6 linked regions of the Homo sapiens genome follow. The gene in region 1 interacts genetically with each later gene. Each region holds a gene or a part of one and is shown in the gene's direction. Other genes may lie near its edges.

Region 1 (3,592 bases):
CATTTTTTTAGTCTGCTGTTATTTGCCTCACAGATATAATAACCTAGTCTGAGGATGGCATTTTAAAAAAAGTCTTCCTCTGTTCCGTCTTGTTCTGTACCTTCTGTGCTCTCTGCATTCATTTTATTCATTTTTGTCTTTGATGCATGGCCCTTCTTCAGATATTTGGTGATTCTTGGCTGTCCACTAAATATTTAAGAATAGGGTATTAAATGCCAGGCTCATGTGGGTAGGACTTACTGATTGCTGGGTTTTCTCATAGCTTGAATAGGTAGGGACTTGTCTGTTTTATTACTGTATACCAAATGCTAATAATAACAAATATGTTTTCTTGGATCAGATATTTGCTCCAGAAGAAACCTTCCCATTTCCTTAAAGGCCTTAGCTTAGCTGCCAGTGCTCCAGGAGCTGAGTGGAGAAAAGAGATGCAAGTCTCACTAGTTAGTATGTTGACTTTGTCTTAGCCCCCATGTTTTCCTTAGGATGCCTTATCCCTGCCTTGGTGTCCTTGAGAGCAGAGCTGGTTCAGCCTTACTAGAGTAAATTATAGGTCTTATTCCCCAATATGGGTGAGTTTAAAAGCTTCTTACTTCAAGCACTTGTCCTGTTTTCAGCTCATCTCTCACTTCTACCTTGAGCAGTTCCCTGTGTTTCCAATTTCTAAGGCTTCCCAGGCTTTGTATGCAGATGTTTATTTTTTACTGGTTTCTACCCCTATAGGCTTAGGTTTTAGCTTTCTCTTGTAGGCTTAGTCTTTATTACTGTTTATCTATTGTCATCCTTGGTGACTCCTCTTGATTACTGCTGTCTCTTTTGTTCTTTTTGTCTTTATATGCCTGTTTTATTGCTGATGTCATTTTAGTGATGTTTCAAGAGTTGGAGACAAAAGATTTAATCTGTTACATTTAATTGGAAATGTATTTTGACTTTTCTAACCTTCCTTTATAGACATCCCTTTCTCCATCCTTTGTAATTGTACTTGTTACTAATACAGTATAATTTTCATTTTTGTAGCCTGTCTATTTTACTTTTTATATTTTGTTTAATCAAGTTTTCTCCTATTTTTTCATATTTGAACAGATACTCTTTTTTTTCCCCATGAACCTACAAATCTAGAAATAAAAGTATTAGAATGCTAAAGGATTAGTATTTTTCTAGAGGAATGGTATCTTATAATAGTTTCTTGTTTCAAAATAAATTACTGATTTGTATTTTCTCCCATATTATCCATGCCCTTTAAGGTGTAAGTCTGGTTTTAGAATGCTAATTTGTGACCTGTGTTAGAGAATTGCATATTGGAGTCCTTCGCCTAGAGGATTAATAGCTTATTTATTAAATATGACTTCTTGGGAGCAGGCATGTCCAAGTAATGGCTGTCACTTATGTTGAAAAAAGTGGTAATAATATATGGATACATAGAGAAGTTTAAAAAAAATACTTCAGGCTGCATGCAGTGGCACATGTCTGTAATCTCAGCACTTTGGGATGCTGAAGCGGTAGATTGCCTGAGCTCAGGAGTTCGAGACCAGCCTGGGCAACATGGCAAAGTCCTGTCTCTATCAGAAATACAAAAATTAGTGGGCGTGGTGGCATGTGCCTGTGGTCCCAACTACTTAGGAGGCTGGGGTGGGAGGATTGCGGGACCCCAGGGAAGCCGAGGCTGCAGTGAGCCGTGATGGCATCACTGCACTCCAGCCTGGATGACAGAACGAGACTGGATCTCAAAATATAGATAAATTTAAAACCCCGCCCCCCCAAAAAAACACAAAAAACAAAAATGAAAAGGTAGTTGCTATGTAAGATTTTTTTTTTAGCAAGCATATTAAAGATAAAATGCTATGATATTTTATTAAATGAATTAAGGTGTTTGTTGTTAAAATGTCTTCTATTTTAGGACATATAGCAACATAGTTGCTTGCTGGTTTATGAATAGTGCTTAAATATTACTTCCTCATGGTCTAAAATAGTGTCCCTCACCCCACTATCACTCACTGCACCTATATTTTGCTTTATTTTTCTTCAAAACAGTATCACTCCTTCTGACTATATTTATTAGTCTATTTTCATCAACTAGATTAGCCTTTGTTTTATTCATTGCTGTGTAATGAGTGTCTAAAGCAATGTGTAGCACGTTGAAGGTATTCAGTAATTTGTTAAAAGAATGAAAGAGTAAACATTTGCCGCTTATAAAAGGAAATATGCCAAATTTCAAGTAGATATTGAAATTATTTGAAATAACTCATGAGATATAGAGGAAGGCAAGCTGTTACAATGTAGTCATATGCAAATGATAATATTAGAAACTTGAGTTACTGATTTGGGTTCCAAGACCATCTTAGCATTTCTGTTTTGTGCTGCAGGTATCTCCTCCTCATGTCAAAAGTATCTCATAAGTGAAGTTCATTGGGAAGATTTTCATGTATTTTGACAATTTTATAGGTTGGAGAATTATAGATAGGACAATTTACTTTGAAAGACACACCTTTAAAAAGCCTCTCTAACTTTTCTTAGCTGGATGAAAAAGAAAGTCGGCGTCTGTTCCAACAGATCCTTTCTGGTGTGGATTATTGTCACAGGCATATGGTGGTCCATAGAGATTTGAAACCTGAAAATGTCCTGCTTGATGCACACATGAATGCAAAGATAGCTGATTTTGGTAAGGATAATTTTATAGTTTCTTAACGTTCATTTCTAATGTTCTTATAGTTTCAATGAACCTACCTAGAATTCTTCAGATAACTGTAAAAGATTACATAAAGTAATAGACTGAGTATATCAAAGTATTCTGTTTTGTCTATGAAGATACAAAAAGAAGAAAAGCTAAGAAATCATCTTTTCTTAGCTTTAAATGTCTTTATTACTATTATTTTATAGAGGCAGGGTTTCGCTTTGTCGCCCAGGCTGGAGGGCAGCGACGTGATCATAGCTCACTGCATCCCCAAACTACTGGGCCAGGTGACCCTCCTGCCTCAGCCTCCTGAGTAGCTGGGACTGCAGGCGTGCACTACCATGCCAGGCTGTTTTGTCTTTTTGTAGAGACAAGTTCTCACTATGTTGTCCAGGCTGCTCTTGAACTCCTGGCCTCAAGTGATCTTCCTACCACAGCTTCCCAAAGTATTGGGATTACAGGTGTGCACCACTGCACCTGGCTCTTTAAATATCTTTAAAATTAAATTTTAAACAACTTAAGTTGGTAGTATTAGAGAGACTATTTGAAAAGAGTATTATTTGTGAAAGAGAAGGTAGCAGCTTTATTTCCAGTATGTTCAAAAGAATCAAGTATGGAGAAGAAGGAAAGTGAGTGGGATGGAATTATTTAAAACCTTAAAAACCAGAAGTGAACTATGTGAATTTAATTATTTAAAATTATTTAAAACAATTTTTTAATTAAAAAAATTTATTTAAAAATTTAAAAATGTTTTAAATGATAGTAAATTATAATTTGTTTAAAGAACATTTTGATTGTTAAAAATGAATTTATTTTGGCTGGGCGTGGTGGCTTATACCTGTAATCCCAGCATTTTGGGAGGCCGAGGCGGGCGGATCACCTGAGGTCAGGAGTTCGAGCCCAGCCTGGCCAACATGGTGAAAA
Region 2 (3,592 bases), on another chromosome or scaffold:
TATACAACTGTATTTGTTTTTCATGTAATGAATTTGTAACTAGCAAACCTGCTAAACTTTCTTATGAGTTTTGATAATTTGTATGTAAATGACAGCTTTCATTTTCCCCACAACCCTCATTTTTATCTTTCTTATATTATTACACTGCTAAGACCTCCCGCCTTTAATATACACACACGAGATGTGCAGTACACGTTGAAAAGAAATGTTAATAATGTATATTCTTATGCTGATCCCGATTTTAAGTTTCACCATTGAGCAAATTTGCTGTAGTTTTTTTGGTAGATATCATTTAATAGGTTAAAGACGTTCCTGTTTATTCTGAGTTTGCCAATACAATTTTTAAAAGATGAATGAATATTGAATTTTATTAAACATGTTTTCTGTATTCACTGAAATGACATTAATTTTCTATTTTAACCCATTAATGTGGTACAATACATTAGAGTTTTTCTTGTGTTGAAATAATCTTGCAGTCCTGGGATAAATAAAAACTTCTGAATTTCTTTCACTAATTTTTTGTTTAGGATTTTAGCATTTTGCTCAGGAAAGAGATTGGCCTGTGATTTTTCCAAGAGTGTCAAGATTACACTAACCTCATAAAATCAGGTGGGAACTATTTCCTTTCATTCTGTCCTCTGACAGAGGTTGTCTGCAGAACTAGCCATTCCTCAAATATTTTACCTGGCAGCATTTCCAGGTAAAATATCTGGACCTGGTGTCTCCTTTAACATTTTAACTGATACAATCTCTTTTATCAGTTATAGAGTCCTTTCAGTTTGCTATTTCCACTAAAGTTAGCTTTCTTAAGCTTTCCTAAGTTATGGTTTTCTATGAATTTTTCTACTTCACATAGTTTTCAAATTTATTTTGTGTAAAGTTCTTATCTTTGTATCTTTTTTATCTCTGTTGCATTTGTAGTTATAGCTTCTCTTTCATTATAATATTATTTATTTGCACCTTTTTTCTCTTGATCAATCTTGCTATAAGTTTGACACTTTTATAATTCTAAAATAATCAACTTTTGACTTTTTGATCCTTTTTTATCTTTATTTTCTATTTAACTATTTTTTCATCATTATTCTGTTTCTCCTACTTTCTTTGGATTTATTCTGTTGTTCTTTTTTAACTCATAGAGTTGCCTGCTGCTCAGCTCATTCATTTTCAGACTTTCTTCTTTTCTAATTTAAGTGTCCAATGAGATAATTGGCCTACTAAACAGGGCTGATATTCCACAGATTCACAATCGTATGGCCATATGAATTTTCAGAATATTTCTAGTCCATTTTATAAATAGGCACTCTCCCAGGCTTTTTTAGTCTCTCCAACACTTACCCAGTTACCCTGGCCACCTCAATTCCTTTCCCAGGATAGCCAGGACCTACTGATTATCATCTAGCAACTAAAGGATTAATGCCTACCACAGCAGGAGGCCTCCAGTACTTGGTGCCAGCCCTTGGACCAGCTTCTGTTTTGATAGATCAGTGCTCTTGTCATTTCTATTTTAATTCCATTCTGGTCAGAGAACAAACTTTGTATTATTTCAGTTCTTTGAAATCTGTTGAGACTTGCTTTATGGACCAACTTATGGACAATCTGGTAAATGTTCCAAGAGCACTTGAAAAGAATGTGCGTTTTACAGTTGTGTTTAGTGTACTATATACCTCGATTAAGTTGTGTTTGTTAATCTGGCTCAAATGTTCTATATTCTTCTGGGGTTTTGGCTGCCTGTTGATATGGAAAATTTGTTAATGTTTCCTTGTAATTCTGTCAATCTTGAAAGTTCGTAGTTACAAACAAATTTAGAATTGCTATATCTTCCTTGTGAATTGAATATTTTATCACCATGTAAGGAAATTATTAACTCTGGTAATACCTGGTAATTTGGTATCATTGATGTTTTTGCCCTATAATCAATCTTTTTTCTCATATTAATATACCTACATTAGCTTTATTTAGCTTAATATTTGCCTGGTATGTGTTTTCCTACATTTAAAAAATTGTTTTTGATAGAGATATAATTCACATACCATAAAATTCACCATTTTGAAGTATACAGTGGTTTTGAGTATATTCACATAGTTGTGTAACCATCACCACTAATTCCAGGACATTTTCTTTATGCCAAAAAGGAATTCCATACTCTAGACTCACTCCAGATGACCCTCTCCCCTTAGCCCCTGGCAACCACTAATCTACTTTCAGTCTCAATGAATTTGCCTATTCTGGACATTTTATATAAGGGGAATCATACAATATGTGGCCTTTTGTATCTGGCTCGTTTCTTTGGGCATGTTTTCAAGGTTAATCCATGTTGTAGCATGCAAAGTCACAAAGATATATGCCTAGGCTTTTTTCTAAGAGTTTTATAGTCTTGGCTCTTACATTTAGGTTTTTCAATTTATTCTGAGTTAATATTTGCATGTGGTGTGAGATGGGAATCCAGCTTCGTTCTTTTGCATGTGGCTATCCAGTTGTCCTAGCAGCATTTTTTGAAAAGACTCTTCTTTCCCCTACTTAATTGTCTTGGCACCCTTGATGAAAATCAGGTGACTATAAGTTGAAGGGTTTACTTCTGGGCTCTCAGTTCTATTCCATTTGTTTATATGTATCTCTACCCTTATACCAGTACCACACATTCTTGATTATTGTAGTTTAATTGTAATTTTGAAATTGGGAAGTATGTCTTCTAATTTTGGTCTTTTTCAGATTGTTTTTATGATTGTTTTGGCTATTCTAGGTCCTTTGCATTTCCATATAAATTTTAAGACCAATTTATTAATTTCTGCAAAGAATTAAGCTGAAACTTTGACAGAAGCTGCATTTAATCTATAGATTAGTTAGGGAATATTACCATCTTAACAATAATAAGTTTTAGGTCCCTGAACATGAGATGTTGTTGCATTTACTTAGGTCTTTAATTATATTCACCAATGTTTTGCAGTTTTCAGAGTGTTTTACATTTTTTAAAGTGTTCTTTTAAGCATTTTATTGTTTTGATGCTATTGTAAATAAAATTGTTTTACTTAATTTCATTTTGTTTGCTCATGGCTACTTTATAGAAATGTAATTGATTTTTATATATTGATCTTATATTCTGCAACATTGCTGGACTCATTTATTAGGTCCAATGGTGTTTTTTAGTGCATTCCTTGGGATTTTCTATATACAAGATTATGTTATCTGCAAATAGAAATAATTTCATCTCTTCCTTTCCAATCCAGATGCCTTTTATTTTCTTTTTCTTACCTAATTACCTTGGCTATAACCTCTACTAGAATGTTGAAAAGATGAGATGAAAACAGACATCCTTCTGTTGTTACTGATCTTGGCAGGCGGCATGGGAGAAACTATTCAATCTTTCACCATTAAGTGTGATATTCACTGTGGGTTTTTCATTGGTGTCTTTTATTAGGTTTAGGGCCTTTCCTTCTAGTTTTAATTTGTTGTTGGTTTTATCATGAAGGGGTATTTAATTTCCCAAATGCTTTATCTGTGCCTATTATGATGATCATTTGGTTTTTTTGTCCTTAATTCTATTGATGTGATCTGTTGCATTAATTGATTTTCAAAGGTTAAATCAAGCTTGCAT
Region 3 (2,828 bases), on another chromosome or scaffold:
TCCCAGCTACTCGGGAGGTGGAGAGGTGGGAGGATTGCTTGAGCCCAGAAAGTCGAGGCTGCAGTGAGCCAAAATCGCGCCAGTGCACTCTAGCCTGGGTGACAGAGCAAGACCCTGTCTCCAATACAAACAGAAAAAGGAAGGGAGGTTGGGCAAAGGTGGACTGAGGGTCCACACTGACTGCACCCTCACTCCCACATTGTGCTGGCCCTGGGGCCACAGGTGAATGGACGTGGTCTTTGCCCTTAAGTCAGCACCCATGTAGGGTCAGTCCTCTGTGCTTCCTTATCCAGGGGCTGTGATGATGAAGGAAGGAGAAGGCCAGGGCTATGCTCTGTGATGGCTGTCATCCTGCCTTCCAAAGCTACATGTAATAGACACACTGCTTTGTCCCTCCCCTGCCCCTAGGACGAGCGGGGTTCCGCAGCTGACTCCGAGGAGTCCCCAGCTATTGAGGCAATCCATCTGTTGAGGAAGACCTTCCCCAACCTCCTGGTGGCCTGTGATGTCTGCCTGTGTCCCTACACCTCCCATGGTCACTGCGGTGAGTTCCCTCCCTCCCACCAGCCCTGCTGCCACCCACACTCCTACTGCCCACTTCTCAACAGGGTGGGGACAGGCCAGGGCCCAAGGTGCTCCCCAAAACCCAGTCATCTGTCCTGAAGGGCTCCTGAGTGAAAACGGAGCATTCCGGGCTGAGGAGAGCCGCCAGCGGCTGGCTGAGGTGGCATTGGCGTATGCCAAGGCAGGTGAGTGAACCACCAGCAGGGATGGGCACCTCTGGGTCAGGAGGTGGCAGAGTGGCTAGGAGGGCCCCAGAGTTCTGAAGGCCACCCTCTGCCCCCCAGGATGTCAGGTGGTAGCCCCGTCGGACATGATGGATGGACGCGTGGAAGCCATCAAAGAGGCCCTGATGGCACATGGACTTGGCAACAGGGTAAGGGCAGGGAATGCAGCACAGGGCTGGCAGGAGATAGTCTGCACCAGCCCTGCCCCCGTGTCTGCTAAGAATCACAGAACTGCCGGGCGTGTTGGCTCACACCTGTAGTCCCAGCACTTTGGGAGGCTGAGGCAGGTAGATCACTTGAGGTCAGGGGTTCAAGACCAGCCTGGCCAACATGGTGAAACCCCATCTCTACTAAAAACACAAAAATTAGCTGGGCGTGGTGGCAGGCGCCTGTAATCCCAGCTACTGGGGAGGCTGAGGCAGGAGAATCGCTTGAACCCACGAGGCAGTGAGCTGAGATCATGCCACTGCACTTCAGCCTGGATGACAGAGCTAGACTCCATCTCAAAAAAAAAAAGAATCACAGAACTGAAGACAGTGCTGGATGAGGCTTTGGGGAACCATTTAAACCTCTGGGCCTCTGCAGGGAAATCAAGCCCAGCACTCCAACAGGACCAGAACACAGGCAGTCTCCTTCCCAGCCTAGGTTCTTTCTCTCCCTGCCACATCACCCTGGGATACCTGGCAAGGGCCGAATAAGCCAAGACCTCCATTGTCTCCCCATAGGTATCGGTGATGAGCTACAGTGCCAAATTTGCTTCCTGTTTCTATGGCCCTTTCCGGTGAGCAGGGGTGGGCAGGGGTCTGCTGTGAATCCCTGGCCCTTTGGCCCAAAGCTGGAGCCCACCCTGATGACTCTGCTTTGCAGGGATGCAGCTAAGTCAAGCCCAGCTTTTGGGGACCGCCGCTGCTACCAGCTGCCCCCTGGAGCACGAGGCCTGGCTCTCCGAGCTGTGGTGAGTGACTAGGACTTGAGCCCCACCCTCAGCCCCCTCCTAGGCACCACCCACATTATACCCTCATCCCTTAGGACCGGGATGTACGGGAAGGAGCTGACATGCTCATGGTGAAGCCGGGAATGCCCTACCTGGACATCGTGCGGGAGGTAAAGGACAAGGTGAGCACAGGTACGAGGCAAAGGGGGCTCAGGGGGCTGGGACAGAGTTTTCCACAGACTCTGGAATCTCAGAGTTGGAAGCAGTTTGCCCTTAAGCATGCATCCTCTCCTCCCCTTCCCTGCCCAGGAACCATCGTGGCCTTCTATGTCGGGGCTTGCACGAGCCTCAAACAGCCCTGCTTTAACAGTTCAAGAGTGGGCCAGGCTGCCAGCCGCAGTAACCCAGGACACGGGGCTCAAGATGGTCACAGATTGAGCAGGGGGGAAGGGACGCTTCCAGAGCCACATCCACCCTCCATTTCAGCCTGTCTCCCTGTCTGCTTCCCTGCAGCACCCTGACCTCCCTCTCGCCGTGTACCACGTCTCTGGAGAGTTTGCCATGCTGTGGCATGGAGCCCAGGCCGGGGCATTTGATCTCAAGGCTGCCGTACTGGAGGCCATGACTGCCTTCCGCAGAGCAGGTAGGCAGGCAAGGGTGGGGTGTTTTGACCTGCGCCACAGGGACTGATAAGCACTCTGCCTAGATTGGGGAACGACGTCCTGAGAGCTTGGGATCTTATTCCGGGAATTACTAGTGATCTAAACAGACACACACTGAGGAAGAGATATGGAACTGCAGCATAGAACACGGCCCGGTGAAGCAAGCAGAGCCCTTCATTTTTGGTTGTGAGAACGTGGGCAAGCCACTTCTCTGAACCTCAGTGTCCTCACCCATAACTGGATAACTGGGGATAAGATACCTGGTGCGTGGTTGTCCTGAGGATTAAATGAAGTAATATCACTCCATAAAGGGGACTCATTTTGTTAGAATTGCACACCAGCATGGGAAGGAACTTGCCTCTTACCTATTTCCTTCACTGTGCATTTTATTCTTTGGTAAACTGAGGCCCCAAAAGAGGAAATGACTTGCCCAAGAAATAGAGT
Region 4 (3,592 bases), on another chromosome or scaffold:
TTTATTTTATTTTTCTGCTTTTCAGATCCAGACCTACAGATAAAAAACATTATTTAATCTATCTGGGATTTACTCCGGCTTATGATTTGAGGTGGGGCTCTAATTTTAAGTTTTTCTCTTATTTGTTGAATAATCTATTACTATCTAATCTGCTCCTGCTTTTTTAAAAAAATGAACTTTAAATGCTTTTAAATACCCAGATCTGTTTCAGGATTCTCTAGTTCACTGGTTTATTTAAGCAAAGCAGAGGTCATTAGTAAGCCAGGTATTATGTGAACATTTTTAGAAAGCTTATTCTTGTTGTGTAGACAGACAGTGTAGGCAGAGCAGTTCAAGTCACTGTATTTTATAATTTTGTTGTGCCCTTTTGTTTCTATTTGAGAGGATAGCCCAGAACACTCCTTAGGTGTTCTTTGGGGATGCTGTCTAGGAGAGAAGTGGCAAGCATCCATCTATGTGTCCTCTGCTAAACAGGCGTTCTTTGGCTTGCAAAGGTATGAAAGTATTGACTTGGCAAGAGAACCATAAAATCTGTGACTTCTATATAATTAGGGAGTTCTAATTATAGCAACCTAAGCCCTAAAAATATATGCAATTGCCTTAAGTGTACAAAGCGTATGTATATTAGGTCAGTCATATGGAATTGCTAACATTTAACCAATTTCATATAGTTCAAATGCCTGTAATCAGATCTGTGTACTTTAAAATAGCCAAGCCCAACTAATAGAGAGATTTCTTTTTTATCTTTTTTTTTTTTTTTTTGAGATGGAGTCTTGTTTTGTCGCCCAGGCTCTGGAGTGCAGTGGCGCTCACTGCAACCTCTGCCTCCCAGGTTCAAGTTATTCCTCTGCCTCAGCCACCCTAGTAGCTAGGATTACAGATGCACGTCACCATGCCCAGCTAATTTTTGTATTTTTAGTAGAGAAGGGGTTTTGCCATGTTGGCCAGATTGGTCTCGAACTCCTGACCTCAGGTGATCCGCCTGCCTCAGCCTCCCAGAATGCTGGTGTTACAGACGTGAACCATTGCCCGTGGCCTAAGAGAGATTTTTTTTTTTAAGTCTGCACTTTATTCTATCCCTGAAGAAGCAAGAGGTGTTTAATGTAGTGAGAACTGATAATGTCAATGACTTTGGCAGACCAACTTGTAAGATGCCCACATTATGTTGCTGTCTTATGTGAGTTTGAAACTCACTGTTATAAGCCTATATTGACCTTCCTGGCAACATTTGTGTTCTAGTACCTTTGTGAAACAGGCCAAATCCTGATAGAAGTGGAATTTTGAGAGAATCAAAGAACATCAGCTTAGAGTGCCGGGTTTCTTTATTTCTCTCTGGTTTTGAAAAGATCTGTTGTCATCTGTTTTTTCACTGTAGCACTTCTTGAATGCTGTTATGCCAGAAGGAGAAAGTTTAGGCTATTTAGTCTAGTATTTATATCTTAAATATTTGATAAAAATCTCACCTCAACCCTTTGAATAGCAATAAAACATGAAACTTCTTCAGTGAGGTCATTTCCAGTATTTACCTGTGGAAGAAGCCAACGAAACATTAAAATTGGATTTTGAATCACAACTGGATATCCTGGTAGGCCCCAACCTATGAGTTGTATTTCAAAAAATAGCACTCACCGTGACCACATGTTATATATTTTTGTTTCTCATCTGCCTCCCTTATTGTTTGTTTCTTATCTGCTTCCCTGCTAGTATGTAATAAGTGCTACGAAAGAAGGGACTCTGGGCCAGGTGTGGTGGCTCACGCCTATAATCCTAGCACTTTGGGAGGCCAAGGTGGGTGGATCATGAGGTCAGCAGTTCGACACCAACCTGGCCAACATGGTGAAACCCCATCTCCACTAAAAATACGAAAATTAGCCGGGCATGTTGGTGCATGCCTATAATCCCAGCTACTCAGGAGGCTGAGGCAGGAGAATTGCTTGAACCCAGGAGGTGGAGGTTGCAGTGAGCCAAGATCATGCCATTGCACTTCAGCCTGGGCAATAGAGCGAGACTCTGTCTCAAAAAAGAAAAAAAAACAGAGAAAGAAAGAAGGGACTCTGTTTGTGTTTACTGCTATATTCCCAGTACTTAGAACAACGTGTGGGCCTAGTGGTAGTCATTAAATATTTGGTGGTGGCTCACGCCTGTAATCCCAGCACTTTGGTAGGCTAAGGCAGGTAGATCGCTTGAGCCCAGGAGTCAGAGGTTACACTGAGGTATGATTATGCCACTGCACTCCAGCCTGAGTGAAAGAGCAGGACCCTGTCTCTAAAAAGTAAGTAAATAAATAAATAAATATTTGGTAAATGAAGGAGAAACTAAATGAATTAACAGTCTTCTAAATAATGGTTATTTTCTGGTTCAGCCTACAGGGTATATTTAACTCATAATATGTATAAAAATTACTAATAGTAGTTCAGAATTTCTGGCCCTCCTGGGAGGCCTGTATTTAGACCCCTTCTGATATTTGAGCCTAACGCCAACTCAGCATGTGCTTGAGCTCTTCTGAGGCTTGAAGACATAAGAAGTGAAGCCTGCTGGAGAGTCCCTGGGCTGGCCCATGGGGAGGGGAGGGAGGGCACTCCATGCCTTCCATGCAACTTGTGAGGTTGCGCAGGAGCTGGCCAGCTGATGGTCTCCATTTTTTCCTACAGGATTTTTGCATCTTTGATGTTAGGGGTTACTGACCCTTTATATTTTCTATTAAAAAGTTTGTGTTTAGCTCAATTGAATTGCTAAAGTATTCTTTTCAGGGAAAGAAATTATTAAAAGTAAGAGGAAAGCACAGGGCCAGAACACTGGACTGTGCCAAATGGAAAGATAAGCTCTGGGGAGGGTTTGAGGCAGCTCATAGTGTGCTTTCTGCCCTCTTTTTCAGGGCCTTCTCACCTTCTGAAGAATGGCTTCTGTTTGGCAGAGATTGGGTTTTTATGCCTCTCTTCTGAAAAGACAGCTAAATGGTGGGCCAGATGTCATCAAGTGGGAAAGGAGAGTAATTCCCGGATGTACCAGAAGCATCTACAGTGCCACGGGAAAGTGGACAAAAGAGTATACATTGCAGACAAGAAAGGATGTTGAGAAATGGTGGCATCAACGAATAAAAGAACAGGCCTCCAAAATTTCAGAAGCTGATGTGAGTATTCTGAGAGATTCTAAGAGGGTAGAGAAGAGGGGTTGAAGGTTTGGACCCTGGGGTTAGACTACCTGGTTCAAATAAGATATTAAATATGTGACCTTGAACCAAATTGTTGAATTTCTCTGTGCTTCAATTCTCTTATCTGAGATGGAGAGTGATCATAATAGTGCCCACCTGCACTATTGGGAGGGGTAAATGGATTGGGAGGCATAAATGAGGTGATACAAAGGTAGTGTTTACAAGAGTTTCCAATGTGGTGGATGCACACATAGTAATATTGCGCACGAGGTGTATGACAGACAGCAGCAAACCAGGTGTTCTAGAGCAACATTTACTGGGGAAGCTCATCAAAATAGGAGCTCTACCAGATGATGGGTCCTTTGTGGTCCATTGCATGGTGGGGCAGCACACAGGGATCTGGCAGGGTCATATCTGAGACTCCAGGAGAGGCACCTGGGC
Region 5 (3,592 bases), on another chromosome or scaffold:
GTGAAGGCTGCAGACTGAACTATGTTCCTGCTACTGCACTCTAGCCTGGGTGACAGAGCAAGACCTGGGTCTCAAAAAGAAAAAGAAAATGCTGGGACTGGGATTATAGGTGTGAGCTGGGCACAGTGGCTCACACTTGTAATCCCAGCACTTTGGGAGGCCAAGGTAGGCAGCTCACTTGAGGCCACGAGTTCAAGCCCAGCCTGGGCAACATGGTAAAACCCCATCTCTACAAAAAAAAATTAGCCTGGCATGGTCATGCATGCCTGTAGTCTCAGCTACCCAGGAGGCTGAGGTGGGAGGATCACCTGAGCCTGGAAGTAGAGGCTGCAGTGAGCCTGTGATCATGCCGCTGCACTCCAGCCTGGGTGACTGAGTGAGACCTTGTCTCAAAAAAAAGAATGGATTGGCCAGGCATGGTGGCTTACGCCTGTAATCCCAGCACTTTGGGAGGCCAAGGTGGGCAGATCACCTGAGGTCAGGAGTTCGAGACCAGCCTGGCCAACATGGCGAAACCCTGTCTCTACTAAAAATACAAAAAATTAGCCGGGCATGGTGGCAGGCACCTGAAATCCACCTACCTGGGAGGCTGAGGCAGGAGAATCGCTTGAACCCAGGAGGCAGAGGTTGCAATGAGCTGAGATCATGTCACTGCACTCTAGCCTGGGTAGAGTGAGATTCTGTCTCCAAAAAAAAAGAATAATTAACTGCAAGATACCAGGACTCCATGAGGGACACAGAGACTTAGCGTCCCTAGGCAGTGGCTGAGTCTTGAGAGATCTTGAAATTTTTAATGAGAACTGGGGCAAACTGTCTCATTACCTCTCCATTGTAAGACCCTTTTAACACAGTGAATCTTGTTACCATGTAGAGCACAGGACAAAAAGAACACATAAGCTCGATCCTTGGACCCTGAGATGTCATATGTGCTAACAGGACAGGGGTGCCCAAATCCTGAGCATCTCAGACAGCTGGATGCGTGACCACAGCAGCCACAGTGATGTTTGTGGAGTGTTTGCCACACGCCACACTCTGCTCTAAGGGAGTCATCTCATTTCCTTCTTGAAACAATTCCCAGGAGGTTAGGAACTCTCAGGACTCACCCCCCACCCACCCCGCACTGCCTCTTGTTTTTAAGATGGAGTCTCCCTCTGTTGCCCAGGCTGGAGTGCAGTGGCTTGATCTCGGCTCACTGCAACCTCCACCTCCCGGGTTCAAGCGATTCTCTTGCCTCGACCACCTGAGTAGCTGGGACTACAGACATGCACCAGCATGCATAGCTAATTTTTAAAATTTTTAGTAGAGACAGGGTTTTGCTGTGTTGGCCAGGTCTCGAACTCCTGACCTCAGGTGATCTGCCCACCTCAGCCTCCCAAAGTGCTGAAATTACAAGCGTGAGCCACCATGCCCGGCCTCAGGACCCCATTTGACAGACGTGTAAACTGAGACCTGCAGCCCATGCCCGTGCGCCTCTCAGCAGCCGTCTGGCTTCAGCGCTGTGCCCTGAACCCCTGCACCAAACCACAGCCAGGCCAGAGAGCCAGGGCAGGGTTTCTGTTCTCACACAGATGCAGGAAGGACGCACAAGCCCCCCTTTGATTAATTTAGGACCTGTGCAGATGCCCGGGACAGGTAGCGGGAGAAGAGGAAGCAGGAGGGAAGGGGTACTGTGGACAGCTGGCTTTTCTTTACTCACCTCTCTGGTTTTCTTCCAGATCCTCCCAAGAAGGTGACCACAGTGATTCAAAACCCCATGCCGATTCGAGAAGGAGACACAGTGACCCTTTCCTGTAACTACAATTCCAGTAACCCCAGTGTTACCCGGTATGAATGGAAACCCCATGGCGCCTGGGAGGAGCCATCGCTTGGGGTGCTGAAGATCCAAAACGTTGGCTGGGACAACACAACCATCGCCTGCGCAGCTTGTAATAGTTGGTGCTCGTGGGCCTCCCCTGTCGCCCTGAATGTCCAGTGTGAGTCCCTGGGCTAGGCAGGGGGATCTGGGAGGTGGCCCGGCTGGGATGAGGGGATGAAGGCAACGAGGCCGGAGCCTGGGCCAGTGTCTTCAACAGAATTGAGGGACAGGAGCCTGGCGTCAGGGCCAAGGGGAGGGGAGGCCTGGGGACAGCAAAAGGGACAGGGAGCGGAGAGGTCAGCTTGGGACCCTTGCCCTCCAGATGCCCCCCGAGACGTGAGGGTCCGGAAAATCAAGCCCCTTTCCGAGATTCACTCTGGAAACTCGGTCAGCCTCCAATGTGACTTCTCAAGCAGCCACCCCAAAGAAGTCCAGTTCTTCTGGGAGAAAAATGGCAGGCTTCTGGGGAAAGAAAGCCAGCTGAATTTTGACTCCATCTCCCCAGAAGATGCTGGGAGTTACAGCTGCTGGGTGAACAACTCCATAGGACAGACAGCGTCCAAGGCCTGGACACTTGAAGTGCTGTGTGAGTGAGGGCCGGAGGCTGGGAGTGGAGCAGAGAAGGGACCAGTGGCCTGCCTGGTAGTGACTTCGCACCCCCTCCCCCTGCCCGCCATGCAGATGCACCCAGGAGGCTGCGTGTGTCCATGAGCCCGGGGGACCAAGTGATGGAGGGGAAGAGTGCAACCCTGACCTGTGAGAGCGACGCCAACCCTCCCGTCTCCCACTACACCTGGTTTGACTGGAATAACCAAAGCCTCCCCTACCACAGCCAGAAGCTGAGATTGGAGCCGGTGAAGGTCCAGCACTCGGGTGCCTACTGGTGCCAGGGGACCAACAGTGTGGGCAAGGGCCGTTCGCCTCTCAGCACCCTCACCGTCTACTGTAAGGCCTCTTCCTGCTCTTGTTCTTCTTGGTGGTGGTCAGTCCTTCCTTCCTTCCTTCCTTCCTTCCTTCCTTCCTTCCTTCCTTCCTTTCTTTCTCTCTTTCTTTTCCTCCTCCTCTTCTTCCCCTCCTCCTCCTCTTCCTCCTTCTTCTTCTTCTTCTGCTTTCTCCCTCTCCTCCTCCTCTTTCTTCTCCTTCTCCTTCCTTCTTCTTCTTCTTATAGAGACAAGGTCTTACTCTGTCACCCAGGCTGGAGTGCAGTCGCATAATGACACCTCACTGCAGCCTCCAATTCCTGGGCTCAAGCAATCCTTTCGCCTCAGCCTCCTGAGTAGCTGGGACTATAGACATGCACCACCACATCCGGCTAATTTTTACATTTTTGTAGAGATGGGGTCTTACTATGTTGACCAGGCTGGTTTCAAACTCCTGACCTCAAGTGACCCTTCTGCCTCAGCTTCCCAAAGCCCTGGGATTAGAGCCATGAGCCACTGTGCCTCTCCCTGTTTCCTCTCATGCTCCTCTCTGGCCCTGTCTCCTCCAGTGACTTCCCGAAAAGCCTTCCAGACCAGCTGGCCCCTTCTTCCCCACCTCACTGTCCCCTTTCCCATTCACACCCCTTGCTCCAGGCCATCTGCCGCTGTGCTGGAGGAGTCGTCTTGTCCTGCGTCACCAGTCTCTCTTTTTCTACCTCCCCTGCAGTCTCTCCTGCCTCCCTCTAGGGTCCCCTCTCAGGCTGCTCCACCTTCCAGAAGTCCTGAGCTCCTACTGGGTCCCTGTCTCTCTCTCTCT
Region 6 (3,592 bases), on another chromosome or scaffold:
ACAGGGTTTCACTATCTTGGCCAGGCTGGTCTCGAACTCCTGACCTCGTGATCCACCGCCTCAGCCTCCCAAAGTGCTGGAATTACAGGTGTGAGCCACCGCGCCCAGCCAAACTCCTTTTAACCACAGGCAAATGGTTTAAGCTACGTGCTGCAGAGGAAGCTGCTGCCCATCCCTCATGAGCAGCTAACAAAGGCCCCAAACCACTGAGCTTCAAGAGAAAATCAGCAGATACTCTTGGCTCTTGTGTACCAGATACCTTTCTAGATACTGAGGGAGAAGAGCAGTGAACAAAACAGACCAAAAAATCTCTGCCTTCATGGAACTTACATTTCGGAGTGGACAGGAGATCGAGACCAGCCTGGCCAACATGGTGAAATCCCGTCTCTACTAAAAATACAAAAATTAGCCAGGCGTGGTGGCGGACACCTGTAATCCCAGCTACTTTGGAGGCTGAGGCAGGAGCATCCCTTGAACCCAGGAGGCAGAGGTTGCAGTGAGCCGAGATCGCGCCAGTGCACTCCAGCCTGGGCGACAGAGTGAGACTCCATCTCAAAAAAAAAAAAAAAAAGGTGACTGGGTGCGGTGGCTAACTCCTGTAATCCCAACACTTTGGGAGGCCAAGGCAGGTGGATCACAAGGTCAAGAGGTCGAGACCATCCTGGCCAACATGGTGAAGCCCCATCTCTACTAAACATACAAAAATCAGCTGGGCGGTGGCACGCGCCTGTAGTCCCAGCTATTTGGGAGGCTGAGGCAGGAGAATTGCTTGAACCCGGGAGACGGAGATTGCAGTGAGCCTGAGGTCACGCCCTTGCACTCCAGCCTGGTGACAGAGTGAGATTCTGTCTCAGAAAAAAGAAGGTGCTTCAGAGGAAAATAAGGCCAGTGGTGGAGCTCCCAGGCAGGCTGGAGGAACAGTAGTGGGGCTGCAGGGGCTGGCGTGGGGTGAACAAGGGGCAGAGCAGCAGTAGGGGCCTGTAGAGCTGTAGGCCTCTGAAGGACTTGGGGCCTCGGGCTTTTTCACCAAGGGCGAGGCAGTAAGCAGCCATTGGCTGGATATTGAAGACCATTCAGTCCAAGTAGAGGATAGAAACAGGGCCCCGAGGCAGGAGCAAGTTCAGCCTCTTTAAAAGCCACAGAAAGAAACAAGCCCACTTATGTAGAAGGAGGTGAGTGAGGGAGCCTGGCTGAAGAGAAGGCTGGGGTGGAGAAAGCAAGGGGAAGCTGGCTCATATAGTGAAAACTTGCCACAAACTGTGGTGGTGAAGGTGCTGGGCAGGACTCAGATGCTAGGATTGTTGGAGAAAGGAAAATTGGGGAAGAGACCATCTACTGGCACTGGCTGTGAGTGCTGCTCATGTGGCCAGGAACTTGCAACTCAGCACTGATTGTTTCTAAGAATAAATGTCAAGTTGGGAAGATGTGTATAAGGGGGACTTAGACCACAACTGCTGCTTTGACTGCGTTGCCTTGTTGCTGTGCTGGAAAAGCTAACCCTGCTTTGGCCTTCCTTCCCCTGACTAGGTGCCGGTATGTGAGAGAGAGAGATCGCCTGGGTAATGAATACCCCAAACTCCACTACCCTGAGCTGTATGTCCTGAAGGGGGGATACAAGGAGTTCTTTATGAAATGCCAGGTAAGACTGGGGTTGTGGAGAGCATCTCTCCTCCCCTGCCCCCAGTGGTAGACTAATGGATCTGTCTGGTGGTCATGACTTTCTTTCCAGGGGTCGGGGGACAAGGTGGGTATCTGCTGAACCCAAAGAAAGCCCCTGTAGAACTGGCTCCCTAGGTCTGCCTGGCCGCTTTCAGCCTTGTAGCCCTAGGCAGAGAGGAAACCAGGTTGTGGGTGTGAGGCAGGTGTACCCTAACCTTATTCTCTCCTGTCCCCTCAGTCTTACTGTGAGCCCCCTAGCTACCGGCCCATGCACCACGAGGACTTTAAAGAAGACCTGAAGAAGTTCCGCACCAAGAGCCGGACCTGGGCAGGGGAGAAGAGCAAGAGGGAGATGTACAGTCGTCTGAAGAAGCTCTGAGGGCGGCAGGACCAGCCAGCAGCAGCCCAAGCTTCCCTCCATCCCCCTTTACCCTCTTTGCTGCAGAGAAACTTAAGCAAAGGGGACAGCTGTGTGACATTTGGAGAGGGGGCCTGGGACTTCCATGCCTTAAACCTACCTCCCACACTCCCAAGGTTGGAGCCCAGGGCATCTTGCTGGCTACGCCTCTTCTGTCCCTGTTAGACGTCCTCCGTCCATATCAGAACTGTGCCACAATGCAGTTCTGAGCACCGTGTCAAGCTGCTCTGAGCCACAGTGGGATGAACCAGCCGGGGCCTTATCGGGCTCCAGCCATCTCATGAGGGGAGAGGAGACGGAGGGGAGTAGAGAAGTTACACAGAAATGCTGCTGGCCAAATAGCAAAGACAACCTGGGAAGGAAAGGTCTTTGTGGGATAATCCATATGTTTAATTTATTCAACTTCATCAATCACTTTATTTTATTTTTTTTTCTAACTCCTGGAGACTTATTTTACTGCTTCATTAGGTTGAAATACTGCCATTCTAGGTAGGGTTTTATTATCCCAGGGACTACCTCGGCTTTTAATTTAAAAAAAAAAAAGAAGTGGGTAAGAAAATGCAAACCTGTTATAAGTTATCGGACAGAAAGCTAGGTGCTCTGTCACCCCCAGGAGGCGCTGTGGTACTGGGGCTGCTGCTATTTAAGCCAAGAACTGAGGTCCTGGTGAGAGCGTTGGACCCAGGCTTGGCTGCCTGACATAAGCTAAATCTCCCAGACCCACCACTGGCTACCGATATCTATTTGGTGGGAGGTGTGGCCCTGTTCTTCCTCACCCCAGTTCCATGACATTGGCTGGTATAGGAGCCACAGTCAGGAAAGCACTTGAGGCAGCATCTGTTGGGCCACCCCCGGCTCAGTGCTGGAATGTTGCAGTGTAGGTTTCCCAGGGAAGGGGGGTGGGGGTAGGTGGGCTCCACAGGATGGGGGAGGAGCATGTCCACTGAGTATCTTCCTTATGTTGCTGTGATATTGATAGCTTTTATTTTCTAATTTTTAAAAAATGGTCATATTATGAGTCAAAGAGTATCAAATCAGTGTTGGATGGACCACCCAAGGGTGAGGAGAGGGGCTGGAAGCCCTGGGCATTAGGAGAAGGGAGTGGGTGCTGGCATGGACATGACTGGATAGAATTTTCTCAGGAGGGAGCTTGGTGGATTTTGAAGGTAAAACTTTCTGGGTTTATCATGTTTTAATTTTAGAGACAGGGAGTGATGAATCATCACCGGTTGTCCCCTTATCTAACTCCATAAAAGTGGGAATTTCAAAAGAACACCTCATCCAAGGAGCTGGGGCAGACTTCATTGATTCTAGAGAGACCTGTTTCAGTGCCTACTCATCCCTGCCCTCTGGTGCCAGCCTCCTTACCATCACGGCTTCACTGAGGTGTAGGTGGGTTTTTCTTAAACAGGAGACAGTCTCTCCCCTCTTACCTCAACTTCTTGGGGTGGGAATCAGTGATACTGGAGATGGCTAGTTGCTGTGTTACGGGTTTGAGTTACATTTGGCTATAAA

The links.
Region 2: changes in PRKAA1 (region 1) and PFKFB1 together harm fitness more than expected from each alone (negative genetic interaction), as found in Homo sapiens cells (one large-scale study listed by BioGRID).
Region 3: changes in PRKAA1 (region 1) and ALAD together harm fitness less than expected from each alone (positive genetic interaction), as found in Homo sapiens cells (one large-scale study listed by BioGRID).
Region 4: changes in PRKAA1 (region 1) and LARS2 together harm fitness more than expected from each alone (negative genetic interaction), as found in Homo sapiens cells (one large-scale study listed by BioGRID).
Region 5: changes in PRKAA1 (region 1) and CD22 together harm fitness more than expected from each alone (negative genetic interaction), as found in Homo sapiens cells (one large-scale study listed by BioGRID).
Region 6: changes in PRKAA1 (region 1) and CDC25A together harm fitness more than expected from each alone (negative genetic interaction), as found in Homo sapiens cells (one large-scale study listed by BioGRID).

What each region holds. Positions count from the first base shown.
Region 1 is NC_000005.10:40,770,783-40,774,374, reverse strand, and holds part of PRKAA1 (5'-AMP-activated protein kinase catalytic subunit alpha-1), read left to right. Parts: intron 1-2,511; coding exon 2,512-2,656; intron 2,657-3,592. UniProt on the Homo sapiens protein: Catalytic subunit of AMP-activated protein kinase (AMPK), an energy sensor protein kinase that plays a key role in regulating cellular energy metabolism.
Region 2 is NC_000023.11:54,987,656-54,991,247, reverse strand, and holds part of PFKFB1 (6-phosphofructo-2-kinase/fructose-2,6-bisphosphatase 1), read left to right. Parts: intron 1-527; exon of another isoform or gene 528-609; intron 610-3,592. UniProt on the Homo sapiens protein: Synthesis and degradation of fructose 2,6-bisphosphate.
Region 3 is NC_000009.12:113,388,514-113,391,341, reverse strand, and holds part of ALAD (delta-aminolevulinic acid dehydratase), read left to right. Parts: intron 1-408; coding exon 409-544; intron 545-665; coding exon 666-749; intron 750-848; coding exon 849-937; intron 938-1,513; coding exon 1,514-1,569; intron 1,570-1,655; coding exon 1,656-1,743; intron 1,744-1,817; coding exon 1,818-1,904; intron 1,905-2,235; coding exon 2,236-2,365; intron 2,366-2,828.
Region 4 is NC_000003.12:45,391,558-45,395,149, forward strand, and holds part of LARS2 (leucine--tRNA ligase, mitochondrial), read left to right. Parts: intron 1-25; 5' UTR 26-91; intron 92-2,875; 5' UTR 2,876-2,896; coding exon 2,897-3,130; intron 3,131-3,592.
Region 5 is NC_000019.10:35,339,166-35,342,757, forward strand, and holds part of CD22 (B-cell receptor CD22 isoform 1 precursor), read left to right. Parts: intron 1-1,715; coding exon 1,716-1,973; intron 1,974-2,177; coding exon 2,178-2,441; intron 2,442-2,536; coding exon 2,537-2,800; intron 2,801-3,592. UniProt on the Homo sapiens protein: Most highly expressed siglec (sialic acid-binding immunoglobulin-like lectin) on B-cells that plays a role in various aspects of B-cell biology including differentiation, antigen presentation, and trafficking to bone marrow.
Region 6 is NC_000003.12:48,157,391-48,160,982, reverse strand, and holds part of CDC25A (M-phase inducer phosphatase 1), read left to right. Parts: intron 1-1,527; coding exon 1,528-1,639; intron 1,640-1,897; coding exon 1,898-2,038; 3' UTR 2,039-3,592. UniProt on the Homo sapiens protein: Tyrosine protein phosphatase which functions as a dosage-dependent inducer of mitotic progression. Directly dephosphorylates CDK1 and stimulates its kinase activity. Also dephosphorylates CDK2 in complex with cyclin-E, in vitro.